2 separate regions of the Homo sapiens genome follow, and region 1 is linked to region 2. The links come from fine-mapping of genetic effects on gene expression. A gene starts in region 2. The other region holds a variant in brackets. All regions are shown on one strand. Distances are from middle to middle. Region 1 holds the start of FNDC10 (fibronectin type III domain containing 10). Region 2 holds the start of SSU72 (SSU72 homolog, RNA polymerase II CTD phosphatase).

What was found. PIP is the estimated chance that this variant, and not a neighbour inherited with it, causes the effect.
Region 1: its variant is fine-mapped to the expression of SSU72 in whole blood (TOPMed, PIP above 0.99).

What each region holds. Positions count from the first base shown.
Region 1 is chr1:1,595,503-1,600,864 of GRCh38, forward strand. FNDC10 (fibronectin type III domain containing 10) reads right to left here and starts at 4,633. Exons shown (of 1, transcript NM_001242659.2): 1 at 2,510-4,633. The coding sequence starts at 4,513. The coding sequence ends at 3,833. It overlaps LOC105378586 (a long non-coding RNA gene), which reads left to right and starts at 3,931. Exons shown (of 3, transcript NR_147951.1): 1 at 3,931-4,114; 2 at 5,155-5,204. RefSeq lists silencers at 1,962-2,011, 4,240-4,359, 4,660-4,709 and enhancers at 3,128-3,786, 3,787-4,446, 4,447-5,106, 5,107-5,362. The variant C/G (reference allele first, on the strand shown) is at 2,597.
Region 2 is chr1:1,572,637-1,577,998 of GRCh38, forward strand. SSU72 (SSU72 homolog, RNA polymerase II CTD phosphatase) reads right to left here and starts at 2,227. Exons shown (of 5, transcript NM_014188.3): 1 at 1,842-2,227. The coding sequence starts at 1,921. SSU72-AS1 (SSU72 antisense RNA 1) reads left to right here and starts at 2,311. Exons shown (of 1, transcript NR_197593.1): 1 at 2,311-4,435. RefSeq lists silencers at 1,711-1,790, 2,031-2,190, 3,850-4,019 and enhancers at 2,311-2,420, 2,431-2,500, 4,418-4,960.

The DNA of each region.
Region 1 (5,362 bases), 23 kb after region 2:
GAACAGGGAGAAACAGAGAGACAGAGAGCGAGAGAGACAGACACAGAGAGAGGCAGACAGAGACAGAGAGAGACAAACAGACAGACACAGAGAGAGCAGAACGGGGAGAGACAGAGAGACAGAGAGAAACAGAGACAGAGACAGAGAGAGGCAGACAGAGAGACAGACAGACAGACAGAGAGAGCAGAACAGGGAGAGACAGAGAGACACAGAGACAGAGAGGCAAACAGAGACAGAGAGACAGACAGAGAGAGCAGAATGGGGAGAGACACAGAGACAGAGACAGAGACAGAGAGAGGCAGACAGAGACAGAGAGAGAGACAGACAGACACAGAGCAGAACAGGGAGAGACAGAGAGAGAGAGACAGAGAGAGGCAGACAGAGACAGAGAGAGAGACAGACACAGAGCAGAACAGGGAGAGACAGAGAGAGAGAGAGACAGAGAGAGGCAGACAGAGAGAGAGAGAGAGACAGACACAGAGAGAGCAGAACAGGGAGAAACAGAGACAGAGAGCGAGAGAGACAGACACAGAGAGAGGCAGACAGAGACAGAGAGAGACAGACAGACACAGAGAGAGCAGAACGGGGAGAGACAGAGAGACAGAGAGAAACAGAGACAGAGACAGAGAGAGGCAGACAGAGAGACAGACAGACAGAGAGAGCAGAACAGGGAGAGACAGAGAGAGACACAGAGACAGAGAGGCAAACAGAGACAGAGAGAGAGACAGACAGACACAGAGAGAGCAGAATGGGGAGAGACACAGAGACAGAGACAGAGACAGAGAGAGGCAGACAGAGACGGAGAGAGAGAGCAGGGCGGGGAGAGACAGAGAGACAGAGACAGACAGAGACAGAGAGACAAAGACAGAGATAGAGAAAGACACAGAGAGGGACAGAGAGACATGGAGAGAGACAGAAAGAGAGGCAGAGACAGAGATGGAGAGAGGCAGAGACAGAGACAGAGTGAGGCAGAGAGAGATGGAGAGAGAGAGGCAGATAGAGAGACAGAGACAGAGAGAGGCAGAGAGAGATGGAGAGAGAGAGGCAGATAGAGAGGCAGAGAGACAAAGAGATGGAGACAGAGACAGACACAGAGAGAGGGAAAGAGGCAGAGAGATAGGGACAGAGAGAGATGGAGAGAGACAGAGACAGATACAGAGAGAGGCAGAGAGATGGAGACAGAGAGGCAGAGAGAGATGGAGGGAGATGGAGACAGGGACAGAGAGATAGGGAGAGAGAGAGATGAAGAGAGACAGAGAAACAGAGAGAGAGAAACAGAGAGAGAGAGAGAGAGCCAGAGACAGAGACAGAGAGATACATGGGAAGGAGAGGGAGAGAATGGAGAGAGACAGAGAGAGGGAGGGGAGGCTCCTCCAGGTAGAGCAGAAGGAAAGAAACTTCGGGGCGGGACTGGAAGGTGCACCAGGTCAGAAGGAGGGGTTGGGGGTCCCCATGCCCCTGGGAGGATAATGGGGCCAGCCGGGAAGGTGGCCAGCTAGGGAACGAGCAGTCTGTGCCAGTGACCACGAGCTCAGATGCAGACGCCCCTCCCTGGCAGGGACGCCCACTCCCAGGCCAAGGCTTGTCCCCTGGGCCTTGCAGGCTGCTCAAGCCACTTCTGCAAACCCTCAGCTGGACTCCATGCCTCTGAGAAGCCCCCAGAACTGGCAGGACAGGCCTGTGGCTATAGCCCGTGTGAGCCTAAGCTCACAAACAAGCCGGAATCCCACCGCAGGCCAGGGAGCCTCCGAAACTTCCCGGCTGCTCCCCAAGGAGCCGTGCTGCCCCAGCTCCCTGGACGCTGCCTTTGCTGGTAGAAGACATGGAAACACCCTTGCAGGTGACCAGGGCAGAAGGTGGCTGGAACGGGAAGCCCCCCACTCCCACCAGGCTGTCTACACACATCGCTGCACACCCCCTCTAGGGATGAGTCACTCCTCAGAGCTGGGCTCCTCCTCCCCCTCCCCCTCCGCCCCCCCCCCCCCCGCCTGTTTTTGCTTCCTCAGGGTCACCCCTGGCTGCAAGTGCCTCAAGGACAGCCTGGAAGAGCCTGTGGGGGAGGGAGGGTGGCATTCAGCACAGGATACACACAGGAGCCCCAGGCTGTCCTCTGCCCACCGTCCCCACCCCAGCTCTAGCTCTGCCAGGGAGGCCCAGGCAGGGAGGTGAGCCCCTCCGGAGCAGCCTAATTGCCACTGTCACAGCTCAAGTGTGTCGCCGTGGGAATGGGCTATTTCTAAGCACGGCAGGTACCGTCTTCCCCTTCCCCCGCCAACACAGCTGGCCCAGGACAAGAAGGTGCAGAGACAAACAGGGGGCACCCTGCCTGTCCTGCTAGGAACTGCAAGGCAGCGTGCCGCACACGCTGCCTGGGCCAATGCCACCCAGGCCAGGAGAGGGTTTGGGGCCAGACACCAGCCCATACCCAAGGGTCCCAGGGGATGTGGGGAGAAGGGGAATCCACCTTTTCCTTCCCTCCCACCTCCCAAATAACACACAGACAGCTCTGTTGGTCTGAGAATGATGGACATTTAGACACTGGCGCCAGGTTTGCGCCTGACCGGCGCCACGCAGGGGTGGGCGGAGCAAAGACACA[C/G]AGGTGGGCTACAGGTGTCACACGGCACCAGCCAGGGCCCGGGGTGGCTGGGGTGAGGATGGGTGTTTGGCCAGTGACCAGGAGTCAGGTCAAGTCCAGGTGGTCAGTGCCAGGGGCTCCAGGAGGGGAGGGCAGTGCCATAACCCTCCTGGTGTCCAGCGTCACCAGGCGGTCGTCACAGAAAGCAACCTCGGCCCGGGGCCCGGGTCTGCAGCAGGTGGGCAGGGTCAGCTTTTCTTCCATGGCGGGTGGCATTGTCTGGGCCGGATACTGGCTCTCGACCCCTGGGCATGCAAAGGCTAGGGGTGGTGCTGTCAGTCACACCGTTGCCACCAAGGTCCCCTGGGTCGGCTGAGGCTTGGGATCCAGGCAGCGGTGGAAGGTCGGGCTGCTCAAGGCCGGTATCTAAGCTTCTGCCCTGGGACCCAGTGGTGATGGCCGCCATCTGCCCCATTCCCACAGGGACCTAGTCAGAGGTCGCACACACAAAAGGGGTACCTGGCCCTGGAGAACCACCAGCTGCCCGGGGTCTGAGAACACTCACCCTGGCCGCTGGGCCAGGCCTGCCAGGCTCCCGGCTGGTCCAACACCCTAAACGGTACAGAGCGCTGCAGGCCCTCACCTCATGCTTCTGCAGCGCTTGAGGGTGAAGGTGTCTCCAAGGGGACGCTGGCCAGATGCATGGAGAGGCCGGCCAATCTTAGGGCCACAGACCCCCCCTGGACAGCAGAGGGTGTTGGCTCCTGCAGTGGGCCCGAGATACTAAGGCACGAAGCTAACCTAAGCCCAGTGGGGTGGGGCGGGGCAGGACAGGCTTGGAGAGCTGCGCCCCAGGCCTGCAAAGCACAGTGACCGAGCAATGGCGACGGTCTGTCTGGGACAATTCGGCACAGGATGGAGGTGCGGGGTGAGCCGGAGTGCCCATGGCTCTTGCTGGAAGGGGCTCCATGCCCTGGCCGCCTCTATAAAGGCCTGCGGAGAGCGGGGAGAGCCCTGGATGCGGCTGGCACAGCAGCGCAAGCCCAGGGGCCAATCCGGGGCCAGAGTCTGGGAGTCTGACGCCCGGCTGGAAAGGGCGTGTGATGATGCCAAAGTGCCGGAGCCGTCGCCGGCAGGTCCTCCTCCGCGGGGATCTTAAGGAGGCAGCAGGAATGAGGAGAGGAGAGCGGGCGGAGGACCTGGGAGCTCAGGCGCCCTCAGGCAGGTGGCGCAAAGATGGGCGGGCGGCCTCGCGCTTCAGGGGTGTCTGCGCAGGCCGGGGCGCGCGAGGGCCGGGCGCATGAGGTTCTCGGTGATGTAGGCCACCAGCAGGCAGATGACCACCAGCATGACGCAGATGGAGCCGCCCACCGCCGTCATGGCCACCACGATGTCCTGCATGCCGGCCGGCTCGGCGGTGAACTCCACGCACTCGGCCGGCTCGGGGGTCTCTGGCGCGGCGGCGGCGGGCCCAGCGCGCAGCGGCAGCGGCTGCAGGCACAGGCGGTAGAGGACGCTGTCGTGCACGTCGGGCAGCAGGTAGTCGCGGCAGGAGGCCCCGAGGAGCACGCGCTCGCACGGGAAGCGCGTGTAGGCGCCGCGCCACGAGCAGTTGAGCGCGAAGGCGCGCACGCGGCGCGCGGCGGCCGGGGCCAGGCGCCACTGCAGGAGGACGCTGCGGTTGCGCAGGACGCTGGCGCGCAGGGAGCGGCCGGCCGGGGCGTGCAGCACGCAGCCCGGAGCCTGGCAGCGGAAGCCGCGCGCGGGGCTGCGGAAGCACAGGCGCCCGCCGCCCGCCTCGGGGCCCTCGGGCAGCACCTTGTAGGGGCACCAGGGCGCGTCGGGGGTCGGCTCCCAGCCCGGCGGCGTCGGGGCGGCCGCGGCGCAGGGCGGCGGCGCGCAGGCGGCCAGCAGCAGCAGCAGCGGCGGGGCGCGCATCCTGCGGCGGGGCCACGGGGCGCGGCGCTGGGTCACGCGGGCCGCGCCGCCGCCGTCCCCGCTGCCCGCTCCCCGCGATCCCCGGCGCGCCGCGCCCTCCGCCGCCGCCCGCTCCGACCCGCCCCCGCGCCCCGTGCGCGCTCGGACCCGGCGCGGCGGCGGAGGCGGGGCCGCCCCTCGCCCCGCCCCCCTTAACCCTCGCCGGGCCGCGGCCTACGGGTGCGGGGGATCGGGGGTGGGGGGGAGGAGGGGGACGCAGCGAGGCGGCCGGAGTGCCGGTGGGGCTGGGGTGCGGGCAGGGGCGCGGGGTGCGGGCAGGGCCGCCGCTCTCCCGGCTTCCCGCCTAGTGAGCGCACCTTGGACCCCTGCGGCTTTTCCGAGCCGAAACTCACGGGCTGTGGCCGGCTTCGTTTCGCGTCGTGCAGCTCCGCGACCGCCCGTGGCCACACCAGTCGGGGACTTCGTGCTTTACGATGGGGGCGCAGCGGTCTGGCACGCGCAGGACCCCGGGCCTTGCACCCCAACGCTGGCCGCCCTGGACCCGCGGCGGGGACCCGCGCAGTCAGGGTACCTGCCCATACCGATGGGGTGGGGACCAGCACGGAGACTTTCCTTCACCCCGCGGCTTCTGTTCCTTTCAGGACGGACAGCGCCCACCCGGAGGAAAGCCTGACAGATGAGACTTCGCAAGGTGAGAACTCCCTTCGCTCCACACGCAGCGGAGGCAGCTGCAGGGCGCCGACCTTCCCTGCCTCATTGCGCCCCCTCCTCCTCCAGATGCGCTCTGGGGGGCCCTCCCGATGGCTGTGGGGAGGTCAGGGCTGGACAAAGGGAATCCAAAAAGCCCAC
Region 2 (5,362 bases):
TCAGTAGAGACGGGGTTTCATCGTGTTAGCCAGGATAGTCTCAATCTCCTGACTTTGTGATCCGCCCATCTCGGCCTCCCAAGGTGCTAGGATTACAGGTGTGAGCCACTGCGCCCGGCCTACTCCATCTTTGTTATGCAGGTACAGCAGAAAATCTTGAACAAAGGATCACCAAGGAGAACCAGCAGAACCAGAAGGTCTCCAGCCCATTTGTTATTCCAATTAACAATAATTTTGTCTTGGGGGGGGGGGGGTGAGCCTTGCATTGTTTTGCTTAAATGTATCAAATTTTTACAGGTAACTGCAGTTTATAAATGAAGATCCAGCACAATGTAATTCTAGCACATTTCTAGTTTTAAAAACAACCTTTGGCCGGATGCGGTGGCTGACGCCTGTAATCCCAGCACTTTGGGAGGCCGAGGCGGGCAGATCACCTGAGGTCAGGAGTTTGAGATTAGCCTGGCCAGCATGGTGAAGCTCCGTCTCTACTAAAAATACAAAAAAAGCCGGGCGCAGTGGCTCACGCCTGTAATCCCAGCACTTTGGGAGGCCGAGCGGGCAGATCACGAGGTCATAAGATCAAGACCATCCTGGCTAAGATGATGAAACTCCGTCTCTACTAAAAATACAAAAAAAAAAAAAAATTAGCCGTGCCTGGTGGCCGGTGCCTGTAGTCCCAGCTACTCGGGAGGCTGAGGCAGGAGAATAGCTCGATCTCGGGAGGCACAAGTTGCAGTGAGCCGAGATCGCGCTACTGCACTCCAGTTTGGGCGACAGAGCAAGACTCTGTCTCAAAAAAAAAAAAAAAAAAAAAAAAAAAGAAAGAAAAGAATAAAGAGAAAGAATCAGCAGATCATGAACACTTGACACTGATTTTTGGGGGGTGTTTTTTGGTCTCCAACTCCTGACTTCAGGTGATCCGCGTGCGTCGGCCTCCCAAAGTGCGGGGACTACACGCGTGAGCCACCGTGCCTGGCCCACGTGACACTGTTAAAAACGGAAAAAAAAGGGGGACTGTTAATTTTCCCAAGTTGCTCAGGAAAGTTATAGCTGGACTGCGAGAAGAGAAGCGAAACACTGTTTTCATTTAAAGTTCACGTAGGTAACTTTGGAGGTAAAAAAGCCATTTCAACTTTCTTACTATCAAAGTTGACACATACCAAATTTTAACTGTAAGTCAAGTGGTCAGTTTCTCAGTTTGCTATGTGACTGAACAAAAAACTTGTTATCAAGCAGGAATAAACTTTCATTAGACATACGCTACGCAAGAGTCACAGGCGGCCAGTTAGCAGGGAATATAAACTAGCAGAGCCAAACCAAGTCCACGTTGTATTCCAGAAACTACCGGTTGGAGGCGTTCCAGGGAGGAAGAGAGGATCTTTCGCAAAAAAAAAAAAAGAAGAAGAAGTAGCAAACACACAAATCCATGGCATTAAAAAAAGAGACCGCTTTGTTATTTACAACATCGTGGTATGCCGTGATTGTGTTGCGCGCCGTTTCCAGGGAAGGTGGCCAACGACGCACACGAAATACCATGATCGGCCGCCGCCGCGCAGCCCCTCGCCGCGGACGCTACCCTCGCCCCCCGGGCCCGGCCTCGGAGAGCTCGAAGGACCACCGGACAGCGGGCGCCTCGTCCCGGAACCTGCCTTCCCTGTGATGCCCACCCGCGTGTGGACTACGCGCGCTGCCGTCCAGCTGCCATCCCAACCAGCCGACCCACGAGCGCGGCCCGGCCCGGCTTCCTCTCAGGGGTCCTGGCGCGGGCCAGGGGGAACCGGGGAGGAGGGAGGGCCGGTCGCCGGAGCAGAGCGCGCGGGGACAGGGTGGAGCCCAACTACCTGAGGATGTTGTGCGCCTCCATGCTCCGGTTCTGGTTGCTCGAGCACACCACCGCCACCCGCAGCGGGGACGACGGCATGGCGGCGGCCGCAAATCCCGCGGCTCTCCCGCTTGGGTTCCCACCCTACCGCGGCGCTTCCGCGCGAACAAAATGGCGGCCGCGGTGGCCGGAAGCGGGCGACGCGAAACGACGGCGCCGGCGGTGTAGCGTGCGGCGACTGCGCGGCGGCCTCCCCGCCCACCCTGGGCGCCGGGCCGCGGACGGAGCGCAGGCACTGGCCTTCGGGCGCGCTGCACTCGGCGAGGCCGGGGGCGGCCAACGCCGCGCCGGCCCCCGGCGTCCGCAGCAGAGACCCGCACTCCACAAGGCCCGGCTGAGCGTCACGGCGCCAAGCGGCGGCGTCCTGACATCAGCACCCCGCGCCGGCGCCTAGTGTGACGCGACGACGTGCGGAACAACAGGACGTCATAAGGTGTCGCCGCCGCCTTTGGGAGCGATGCGAAACGCCGCGCTTGCCGGAGATAGCATTGAGGGCCCTTCCGCGGCCCGGCGTTTCGTCTCTTGGGACGATTTTGTGCGTTCCCTCGGTCCCCGTGGGGCCCATAGTCCTCACTTCTGCCACCCCAGAGTCGTCGCGCTTCACTAGACCCGCTCCCTCCACTGTCCCGGAGGCCCACAGACATTCCCGCATTCTGAGGCTCGCTCCCGTCCCGTGCCGCTGTTACCGGCCTCCGGCCCCGGCTCATACAAGCAGGAGCACATCGCTCTTTTATGAAAGCCCTTCAACATTTAACGTTTAAATGCGAGGGCCGACCTGTGACAGACCTGGTTGGGAGTGCACGTCGACTAGGATCTTCCTCGCCTCGGGCTTCCTTGGAGAGGCCGCCGGCTGGTCTGAGATTTGGGTCCAGTTACAGTAAATCCAGTCAACGCGAGTGTGTCATTCCCCAGCTATGCCTGTCTGCCTGGATGCAGCCTCGCGGTGGACAGTGGGCTGATGTTTTGCCGTGGGAGCGCCACGGACGGGAGAGGGAGTGATAATGATTGTCAACCTAATAACAGGCTAACTGAAAATGATATTTATTTGGGAATAGGGCGTTGGCGAATATGCGTGCCATAGTAAACGATTTGCGCATTCAGGAAAGTAATGGTTTTTAAAGAAAAAATGAAGAGGAAGATAATGGTTTGGAAATAATTAACCTTGGCTACAAAGAACAGTAACAAGTGTACTCCCGGCCGGGCGCGGTGGCTCACGCCTGTAATCCCAGCACTTTGGGAGGCCGAGGCGGGCGGATCACGAGGTCGGGAGATCCAGACCGTCCTGCCTAACCCGGTGAAACCCCGTCTCTACTAAAAATACAAAAAATTAGCCGGGCGTGGTGGCGGGCGCCTGTAGTCCCAGCTACTCGGGAGGCTGAGGCAGGAGAATGGCGTGAACCCGGGAGGCGGAGCTTGTAGTGAGCCGAGATCGCGCCACTGCCCTCCAGCCTGGGCGACAGAGCCAGACTCCGTCTAAAAAAAAAAAAAAACAAGTGTACTCCCGTTCCAGGGTTGGACAGGCAGTTGCTGGGCAGCTGTCCTTGCTGAAGTATTTTTTGTGTAAGATTGCCTTAGTGCAAGGTTGTGGTTTTTGCAGAATCTTGTGATAGTTTTTCTTATTATTGATTCATGAGAATTCTCCATGGCCTTTCCCAGCTGTCTTTGTCAAGGTATTTTTTAAACATAAGTGAGTCCACTTTTATTTGACAACTTGGGTATTTTCCCCTTTTGATTGAGATCTTTCTCCAAATGCATCACTAATGAGTCATCCTGTAATTAGGTTTTGATAGTCCCCGTGCTGGGATGAACTTGTCCCAGATAGCTGGTCTGGTCCCACACTGGAGAGAGTGGCTGCTGGGAGTCATTGTCAAAACCCTTTTTTACCATATTTGAGCATCAAAGGAGGTTTGAAGGGTGTGGCTCTCAGGCTAAGTCTAACCTGGAGTCCATTATTAACTTCAACTTTTGTCACTTCTGTAGTCTTTCTATCATCTCAAAGTGCTGTGTCAGCATTATTCTGTTAGAAATTGTACTTGTAGCCGGGCGCGGTGGCTCACGTCCGTAATCCCAGCACTTTGGGAGGCCGAGGCGGGTGGAACACGAGGTCAAGAGATCGAGACCATCCTGGCCGACATGGTGAAACCCTGTCTCCACTACAAATACAAAAGTTAGCCGGATGTAGTGGTGCGCACTTGTAGTCCCAGCTACTCAGGAGGCTGAGGCAGGAGAATCACCTAAACCCAGGAGGCGGAGGTTGCTATGAGCTGAGATTGTGCCTATGCAGTTCACCCTGGCAACAGAGTGAGATTCCATCTCAAAAAAATAAAAAAAAAGAAATTGTCCTTTTGCAAAATATGGCAATGAATAAGTTTAAAAGGGGAAAATACAAGGTAAAATCAATAATAATATGACTATCCCAGTTTGCATATTGGTTTTGACCCATGAACCTAGGCTTAAAGGAAAGCAATTAAAAAGAAAAAAATTAGAAAACAAAAATAGAAAAATAGAGATTAAAGGAAGCCAATTGAATAAATAAAATGGCCATAGAAATTACACGAGACTTGTAACCATGTGCCTGTTTTCTTTCTGTGTGTAAATGGATCTCAGTGTTCCAGAGGAATTTACCCACATACAGCATATAGTATTGACATACTTATTTAATACCTTATTTAACCAATAGGTACTAAAGATCTCTTAGGTCAGGTTTTTGTGAAGTTACCAGCAGAAGCTATTGATTGTGAAATGTCAGTTATACCATTGATGGCAGTGGCAGCCTCTCTTGAGTGGCTGCTGGGAAGATGCTGGCTACAGCAGGGGAGGCTCAGCTGGGACTCTGTGCTCCACTGAGCATGTGGGAGCCCTGCCCCCTTCCAAGTTGGCAGGACAGGAGCCCCACCCTCCTGGGAGCAGCTGCATCTGCCCAGCCACGGCTGTGGACCCAGGTATCCCTGCAATCCCAGGGCTGGGAAGCCACCCCACCTGCCCCCGAAAGCTCAGAAGTGCCTCCAGCTGCTACCTGGCCTCTCCTGACTCCCGACAAAGCTGAAGCCAAGCCCAGGCGCTGTTGCAACCCAGCCAGGTGTGCACACACTGAGGGCAGTGCTAGCATGCCAGCCCCTTGCTGCCTCGGCCCGCTCTGGACTTTGAGTGCTCACAAGCATGGGAGCAAGGCCAAGGAGGGGCTGAGGGCGGCTCAGCCCAGTCCTGTAGGCGACCCTTGACCTGAACAGCCTGGGTCCTGTAGATGACATGATTGATGGCAGTAGGAGGCACACAGGCTCCTGGGTGGAAAGGGGTGGGTGTCCAGTGAAGACCCCCATTAAAGCTAGGGACTTCCTGAAACATGGGGGCTGGGCTGCCAGTTCTGGGTGGAGTCTGCCGTCCAGAATGAGATTTATGGTGCTTTTTCTGGGCCCGTCCATGGCTGCCCATGGGCCAATCAGTATACACTTTCTCCCTTCTGAAGCCCATAAAAATCCC